Linked DNA regions of Homo sapiens: regions 1 and 2 are each linked to region 3. The links come from fine-mapping of genetic effects on gene expression. A gene starts in region 3. Each other region holds a variant in brackets. All regions are shown on one strand. Distances are between the middles of the regions. Region 1 overlaps OSBP2 (oxysterol binding protein 2). Region 2 overlaps GAL3ST1 (galactose-3-O-sulfotransferase 1). Region 3 holds the start of SLC35E4 (solute carrier family 35 member E4).

Evidence for each region. PIP is the estimated chance that this variant, and not a neighbour inherited with it, causes the effect.
Region 1: its variant is fine-mapped to the expression of SLC35E4 in fibroblasts (GTEx, PIP above 0.99). The same link has a PIP of 0.9 or more in adrenal gland.
Region 2: its variant is fine-mapped to the expression of SLC35E4 in sigmoid colon (GTEx, PIP above 0.99).

The regions. Positions count from the first base shown.
Region 1 is chr22:30,715,938-30,718,437 of GRCh38, forward strand. All of the region lies in intron 1 of OSBP2 (oxysterol binding protein 2), which reads left to right. Among named protein-coding and RNA genes, the nearest start is that of MIR3200, 14 kb to the right of the region's middle. RefSeq lists an enhancer at 911-2,110. The variant G/A (reference allele first, on the strand shown) is at 1,509.
Region 2 is chr22:30,564,126-30,566,965 of GRCh38, forward strand. The region is part of intron 1 of GAL3ST1 (galactose-3-O-sulfotransferase 1); the gene reads right to left. Among named protein-coding and RNA genes, the nearest start is that of GAL3ST1, 9.1 kb to the right of the region's middle. RefSeq lists a silencer at 1,304-1,504. The variant C/T (reference allele first, on the strand shown) is at 1,533.
Region 3 is chr22:30,634,574-30,637,413 of GRCh38, forward strand. It overlaps SLC35E4 (solute carrier family 35 member E4), which reads left to right and starts at 1,208. Exons shown (of 2, transcript NM_001001479.4): 1 at 1,208-2,496. The coding sequence starts at 1,878. RefSeq lists an enhancer at 1-634 and a silencer at 966-1,415.

The DNA.
Region 1 (2,500 bases), 81 kb after region 3:
CACCTCAGCCTCCCAAAGTATCCCACCTCAGCCTCCCGAAGTATCGGGATTACAGGCCTGTGCCACCATGCCCAACCACAAGCATCTTTTCTTTCTTTCTTTCTTTCTTTTTTTTTTTTTTGAGACAGAATCTCGCTCTTGTCGCCCAGGCTGGAGTGCAATGGCATGGTCTCGGCTCACTGCAACCTCCACCTCCTGGGTTCAAGTGATTCTTCTGCCTCAGCCTCCTGAGTAGCTGTGATTACAGGTGCCTGCCACCACACCCAGCTAATTTTTGTACTTTTAGTAGAGATGGGGTTTTGCCATGTTGGCCAGGCTGGTCTTGAACTCCTGACCTCAGGTGATCTGCCTGTTTCAGCCTCCCAAAGTGCTGGGACTACAGGCATAAGCCACCACACCTGGCTGAGCATCTTTTCATATGCTTGTTGATCGTTTGTATAACATCTTTAGAGAAATGTCTGTTCAAATCCTTTTTTTGTTTGTTTGTTTTTTTGTTTTGTTTTGTTTTTTGTTTTTTTGAGACAGAGTCTCACATGGTTGCCCGGGCTGGAGTGCAATGGCTCAATCTCGGCTCACTGCAACCTCCGCCTCCCAGGTTCAAGCAATTCTCCTGCCTCAGCCTTCTGAGTAGCTGGGATTACAGGTGCCCACCACCACGCCTGGCTAATTTTTTGTATTTTTGTAGAGATGGGATTTCACCATGTTGGCCAGGCTGGTCTCGAACTCCTGACCTCAAGTGATCTGCCCGCCTCAGCTTCCCAAAATGCTGGGATTACAGGTGTGAGCCACCATGCCTAGCCCCTTTGCTCATTTTTTAATCATTTATTTGATTTTTGTTGTTGAGTTGTAGAAGTTCTTCTTACATTCTAGACATTAACCCACTGTCAGATATATGATTAGCAAATATTTTCTCCTATTCCATAAGTTTCCTTTTTACTTTGTTGATTGTGTCCTTCAAGGAACTTAAGTTGTGTCCTTCGATGGAGTCCCATTTGTCTGTTTTTGCTTTTGTTGCCTGTGCTTTTGGTGTCATATCCAAGAAATCATTGCCAAATCCAATGTCATGAAACTTTATGCCTATGGTTTTCTCTAGGAGTTGTACAGATGTTACATTTAGGCATTTAAATCTATTTTGTTTTAATTTTACTGTTTTTGTGTGTGTGTGTGTGTGTGTGTGTGTGTGTGTGTGTGTGTGTAGAGACAGGGTCTCGCTATGTTGCTCAGGCTGATCTTGAACTCCTGGCCTCAAGTGATTCTCCTACCTCAGCCTCCCAAGTAGCTGGGATTATAGGCAAGAGCCACTGCACCTTGCTGGGTCTTTAATCCATTTTGAGTTAATTTTTGCATATGGTGTGAGATAAGGGTCTAACTTCATTCTTTTGCACAAGGACATCCAGTTTTTTCAACATCATTTGTTGAAGAGACTGTCCTTTCCCCCACTGAGTCATCTTGGCATCCTTGCCAAAGATCATTTGACACAGGGAAAAAATCAAGGCCTTTTGAAAAAC[G/A]CCTACACTAAGGGGAAATGACACATGTTTTACTGTCCAGCTGCAGCTGTGCCATCCAGGACCAGATGGGAAGTTACATCCAGGAAAGTGGACCTCTAGAGTCCCTTCTCACATCTCTAGGCTTTGCTCACTAGCTATAAAGCCCTGTACTTACAAAAAGAATGATTGCCATAGCCTGTAAGAAAGCAGATGGAAGTCAAAAGCAGATCCTTAGGTTGATGACAAAGATTGCTGGTTGAGACTCTTATTTTGACACTTAGAGTCTCCTTATTCATCTTCTATTCATCTCAAATATGTGCCAACATGACTCCCCCTCAGGACTGGCCTCATCTCTGCCTCTCCAGCATCATCATCTCCTGCTGATCCCTTGCTCTACTCTGACACCTCAGTGACAATGGGTTGTGTGTGCATTCTGACAGGCGAGGGTGGGCGGGAGTTAGAATCGAGTCCTCAGCTCACCTGTCCTCCTGGATCAAGCAACTTCAAAACACATTGCCCAGTGGTGATTTAAACTCTGAGGTTAAAGCAGCAGTGGTTTTCTCTTGCTTGAGGGTCCGCAGATGACCAGGCCAGGTCTCCTTCAGGCAGTGGCACTTGGGAGTAAGCTAGGAGGTGTGTCTTCCTGTTGTGATGGCAGAAGTACAGGAGGGTAATCGAGAGTCACAGCATCCCAGCTTGAGCCTGCACACCCTCACTCCATTCCACATTCCATTGGCTGAATCAAGGCATGTGGCCCTGTCCAATATCAGTAGGGTGGGAAGATATCCATTCCCCATTTTAGAGGATCCTACAAAGTCCAGTGGCAAAAGTTGTGCACTTAAAATTGTAGTTCAGGGATGGCAGAAAGAAACAGGAGAAATGCTTCAGTCTGTCACAGCCTCTAACCTCCCTTCTAACGATCACATCCTTTAGCCTCTTTATCTATAGAGTGAGAGGACTAGGCTAGGTGATGTCTGGGGTTCTTTCTATCCTTACCTTTCTGAAAATTTGAT
Region 2 (2,840 bases), 70 kb before region 3:
TCCATCACAGGGTGCTGTGCAGATCCTCTGCATTCCACAGGGAAAGCACCCAGCCCGAGGCTGGTGCAGAGCAGACAGTCACTCAGCAGGGCCTGCCATCATTGTTATCATCATTATCATCATTACGTTCCCAGGGTCCCAGCCACAACCCCATCAAAGTGTGTGCCCACTGGCCCACGATGGAGGCTTGCAGGCAGCCAAGTCCAGGGATGATCTCAATGTAGCCAGAGACTCCTAGCCTCAGGGTCAGAAGACAAAGAGGCAGGGAGGCTCAGACTCAGAGAGGGCAAGGATACCTTTGGGGTAACACAGCCCAGCAGCAGCAGAGACAGGACTAGAACCTGGGTCTCCCACCTCCTCCACCCACAGTAGTGACAACTGCAGGCACTCAGGATGGACGGTCCCCCCGTCACCAGCCCACTCCATCTATTCCTGCCCTTCTAGATTACGCCCATCACATTGGCCTGCATCAGTGCAGGCAGCTGGCAGCAGGCCAGGCCCAGCCATCCTCCTGTTTAGCTGAACTGATGCCCTCCAGGGAATGAAGGAGAAACAGGACTTATTCCCCCACATCATGCACAAAGGGAAACTCAGCCCAGGATGGTAAACCTTCTGGCTTAGAGCATCACCACCAGTCAGGTCTCAGGGTATCCTACTTTCCCTGTAACCCCTGTGGTGGAGCAAAAGAGACACACTCACCTCGGGCTGTGGCTGGCTGCCCCTTTCTACCCACTGCCTGAGCCACGTCCAACTCCCAGGCTGCCTCTGCGATCACTGGGAGACAGGAATGCTCCAATGACACCCAGCAGCAAGCTGGCTGGCTCCCTCCCACTCCAGTGGTGTGAATATTCATGAGTTTGCTTCCTGGGGATAGCAGGTGGCACACCCCAGTACCCTGCAGGTGTTGCCCAGGCCTTCTGCCTCCACTGGACAGCTCTGGCCAGTCCTCACCTCTCTTTGGACCCCAACAAGCAAGCAGCTCTTTCATCCAAGGGCACAGAAAGATTCCAGGTATCCTTGGGCCAAGGACACAGCAACCGCAGACGCCTGCAGAGAGCCCAGAACAGGCTCTAAGGCTGAGTGAGGGACAGAGAGGTGCAGGTGGGCTGGGGTGCCAGAGGGCTAATTGCCCCACCTATTGCATTTCATTTAAGTCTCACAGCTGATGCATCAAGCACCCCTGTTAGTCTACCCTCCTGGTAAAGAAACCAAAGCTCAGAGAGGTAACGTCACCTGCCCAAGGTCACGCAGCTAGTAGAGGGCAGACAGAGCTGGAGTACATACGCAGACTTGCCAAACTCCAGGGCTTAAAGATGCTGAGACACAACCAGGGACCAAGGTTTATCTAAAATCTGTGGGAACCCAGAAGAATGAACAACTAACTCAGCCTGGAAGGCTTCCAGGAGGCAGAGCATCTGACCAGGGCTCAGAAGATGAGTCTGGCAAGATTTCACTTCCTGAGCTCTAAATCTTTCATCAGAGAGGGTGTCCTGCCTCTATCCCTGGGTGAGGAATGGTGATACCCAGACACT[C/T]GACCAGCTCTGCAGGATTTGGGCTGATTGGAGATGCAGATCTTCCCCAAGGCCTTGGCAGAAGAGGCAGTTCTAGGTGCCCTGGCCCTAAGCCCCAGGAACCCTAGGACTCAGTTCAGGCACTTGAATCTTAGGTTCAGGTCAGTTGTCTCAGCTTTGCCCATGGGCAGAGGGTCTCCTTGTGCCCAGAAATGCCTCCTCCATCCTCCCTTCAGCACTGCTGCCTAGAACCCCATCATGGACCAGGCAGGTGTCACCATTTAGGGACCCAGGTGCCACCATCAATTAATAATGATCATTATTGTGACAGTCATTCATCCCACACTAAGCACTTTCATAGGCTAAGCAGCTGCCAGCCTCTCCCAGGGAACAGCAGGCATCCTCACTTGCTCTGAGTCCCCCTTTCCCTCAAAGCCTCACCAGTCTGGGAGCAGCCCCCAAGCACCCACGAAACACCAGAGCTTAAACTGCCACAAGGCAGACCAGAGTCGCCTTCTCTCTAGGTACTGGAACCAGGTTTGGGACATGGTATGGAGTTGTTTTATCCAGCCTAACATCCCATTGACCTTCTGCCTTTTGAGCTGAGCTAGAATGAAGACAGCTTTCTGACGGTGAGTCAGGGCGGAGCTGGCATCAAACCGCAGGGGCTGTAGTTTATTAGCGTGGACTCTGAACCCAACACGGTCCACTTCTGTGCTTGGGACCTGTCATGCATCATGCAGCCTCATAGTCCTCTCTGGGGAGCTCTTGTTATCACCTCCATTTTATAGAGGAGTGAGAACTTCATCTAGGTGAGAGTGAAGTGCAGGCTTTTGAACAAGAAGTGAGATCGTGGCTGAGGAGGTGAGCAACTAGCCAAGGGAAGCAAAGATTTCCAGAGTAGGGAGCACTGATGGTAGACCTGTGCTTCCAGCCCTGCCAGAGGGGTCTCTTTCCAGAGTATTGATGATAACATCTTTTTTTTTTTCTTGAGACAGAGTCTCGCTCTGTCGCCTAGGCTGGAGTGCAGTGGCGCCATCTCAGCTCACTGCAAACTCCACCTCCCAGGTTCATGTTATTCTCCTGCCTCAGCCTCCTGAGTAGCTGGGACTACAGGCACCCTCCACCATGCTCGGCTAATTTTTTGTATTTTTAGTAGAGACGGGGTTTCACCGTGTTAGCCAGGATGGTCTCGATCTCCTGACCTCATGATCTGCCCACCTTAGCCTCCCAAAGTGCTGGGATTACAGGCGTGAGCCACCACGCCCAGCCGATGACATCTTTGGCTGGTTCTCTACCCCCACCCCCAGGAAATTTTTATTTTATTTT
Region 3 (2,840 bases):
GCGCCTGGCCACCAGAGGGCGCAGCGGGCTGGGTTCAGCGGTACCCCTTTGAGATCTTGTGTCTCAAGACAGGTTGCTGTCATCAAGGATTTGCTGGTTAGACAACAGGCAAGGGGTGAGCTGGGTCCTCTTGGGCAGGAGCCTAGTAGGAAGACCGACAACAGGAAAGAGGCTCACATCTGATACTGGGCACATGGCTGGGCCTTGGTCCTCGTGCTCCCGGACTTCAGAGCTCAGAGGGGCCAGGGCCTGGCCTAGCCTGGAATCTGGATGGACCTCTTCTGCCCTGGGGCGCGCCGTTTACCCAATCCTGACCTCAGAGAGCGTCTGTCGTTCTGGTGGGAAAACCGAGACCCAGACAGGAACAAGGGCTCAGTGGCAACCGCTCTGCCTCCCAGCCCAGGGCTCTGTCTTGCCGGGGCTGGGGCACAGGGTGGACCCCAGGAAGTTCTGCTATGAGTCAGCTTCGAGTGCTCAGGGGACCGGACAGAGGCTGCTGGCCGGGGAAGGATGCCGGCCGGCGGTACCTACTTCCGCAGCTGTGGGTATCCCTGCCTGGTGATTCAGCTTCCCTCTGAGGGTCCCCAGGGGGCGCCGCCCTGGACTGGGAGGCTGGGGAGGATGCTGGGGCTACGGAGGGGCGATGGAGGTGCCTTAAGGGACCCCGTAATCCAGCTCTGCTGGATGCTGAGGTCCCACGAGATAATTGTGGCCAGAGATCAGGTGGGCGTAAGACTGGTCCTAGGATGGGGGCTGTGGGCCCCTCCTCACTACCCTGCTTCTTGAAGATAGCCTGGGCGGCTGTGCGGGATACCCCAGTGTCTCCAGCAATGCGCGTTCATCTCCATGGAGGGCTCGCCTTGGCGCTGGGTGGGGAGCGACTTGGTCCCCCCTGGCGGCGAAGAGAGGCTGACCACGCCAGCTCGTGGGGGGGTCTACTGGGCAGATGCGCAGGCCCCGGGCGGAGGAGGGCTGATGGGGGAAATGCCAGGCCGATGGGGGAGGGGCTGTGAGCGGGAGGCGTTGGGGCGGGGCAAGACCGCCCTCCCGGTCCGGGGGCGGGGCTTGGCCTGGGGCGGGGCTTGGCTGGGGTGCTCAGCCCAATTTTCCGTGTAGGGAGCGGGCGGCGGCGGGGGAGGCAGAGGCGGAGGCGGAGTCAAGAGCGCACCGCCGCGCCCGCCGTGCCGGGCCTGAGCTGGAGCCGGGCGTGAGTCGCAGCAGGAGCCGCAGCCGGAGTCACAGCCGCAGCCAGAGCCGCAGCCAAAGCCTCAGAGAGCAGGAGTTGGAGCGCAGGCCCTGCTGGATCCGCGCCTAGCTCGCCGCCAGGCACCGGCCGGAGGACGGGCCGTGGTGTCAGCTCACTGCCCGGGCGCTGTGGGAGGCAGCGAGCCCGCGACCCCCCGGGCCGGGCACCGCCAGGCGCGGAGCCCAGATCGCCCCCCTGCCAGGCCTGGTCACGGCCAGAGCACGCAGGAGTTCCCAGGGTCTGGATCTGCGCGCACCCTAATGACCTGGGGACTGAAGAGAAAAAAGGAACGAGGATTTCATCTAAAAGCATAACGTGGGCACTAGGCGAGGAGGAAAGTGGAGACCACCTGGCACGGGGCAGAGGTGCCTGGAGCCCACGCTTGAGCATCGGAGACCCTGGCATCCTAGCAGCCGCGACCTTGGCTCTGCCCTGTCTGAGCTGGAAACACAGCTTAGCTTCTAGACATCGCTGGCACAGGCCTGGCACAAGTAAGCAGTGTCCTCACCTGTCTGAAACGGGACACGGGGTCGGAGGAACCAGGATCTAGCCTGGCCCCAAGCGGAACTCTCTGGTGGCCCAGAGGTCGTCACTGGGGAGCCCGCCTCCTGCCCTAGCCTCACTGGTGCGGATGTGCCGCTGCCCGCCGGAGCACCATGATGGCAGGATGACCTCAGCCGAAGTAGGAGCAGCAGCTGGTGGTGCTCAGGCGGCTGGGCCCCCCGAGTGGCCCCCTGGCAGCCCTCAGGCCCTCCGGCAGCCTGGCCGGGCCCGAGTGGCCATGGCAGCACTGGTGTGGCTGCTGGCGGGAGCCAGCATGTCAAGCCTCAACAAGTGGATCTTCACAGTGCACGGCTTTGGGCGGCCCCTGCTGCTGTCGGCCCTGCACATGCTGGTGGCAGCCCTGGCATGCCACCGGGGGGCACGGCGCCCCATGCCAGGCGGCACTCGCTGCCGAGTCCTACTGCTCAGTCTCACCTTTGGCACGTCCATGGCCTGCGGCAACGTGGGCCTAAGGGCTGTGCCCCTGGACCTGGCACAACTGGTTACTACCACCACACCTCTGTTCACCCTGGCCCTGTCGGCGCTGCTGCTGGGCCGCCGCCACCACCCACTTCAGTTGGCCGCCATGGGTCCGCTCTGCCTGGGGGCCGCCTGCAGCCTGGCTGGAGAGTTCCGGACACCCCCTACCGGCTGTGGCTTCCTGCTCGCAGCCACCTGCCTCCGCGGACTCAAGTCGGTTCAGCAAAGTAAGTGCCTGGGTGGCCAATTGAGAAGGTGGGGGTCCGGGTGGGTGCATGGCCTGGATGGCCCTGTGAGGGGTATGGCTGTTGTCCCATTTTACAAATGAGGAAACTGAGGTTCATGGCTGTGGAGGAAGCAGAACTGAGGCTCAGAGAGGGCCAACAGTTCAGTGAGTTCCAGGCCCCAGACTCAGGCTCTGGAGGCCCAACTCGTGTTTATTTGTTTATTTACTTATTTAGACAGGGTCTGGCTCTGTCACCCAGGCTGCATTGGTGAGATCTCAGCTCAATACAGCCTCCGCATCCTGGGTTCAAGTGATTCTTCTGCCTCAGCCTCCCAAGTAAGTGGG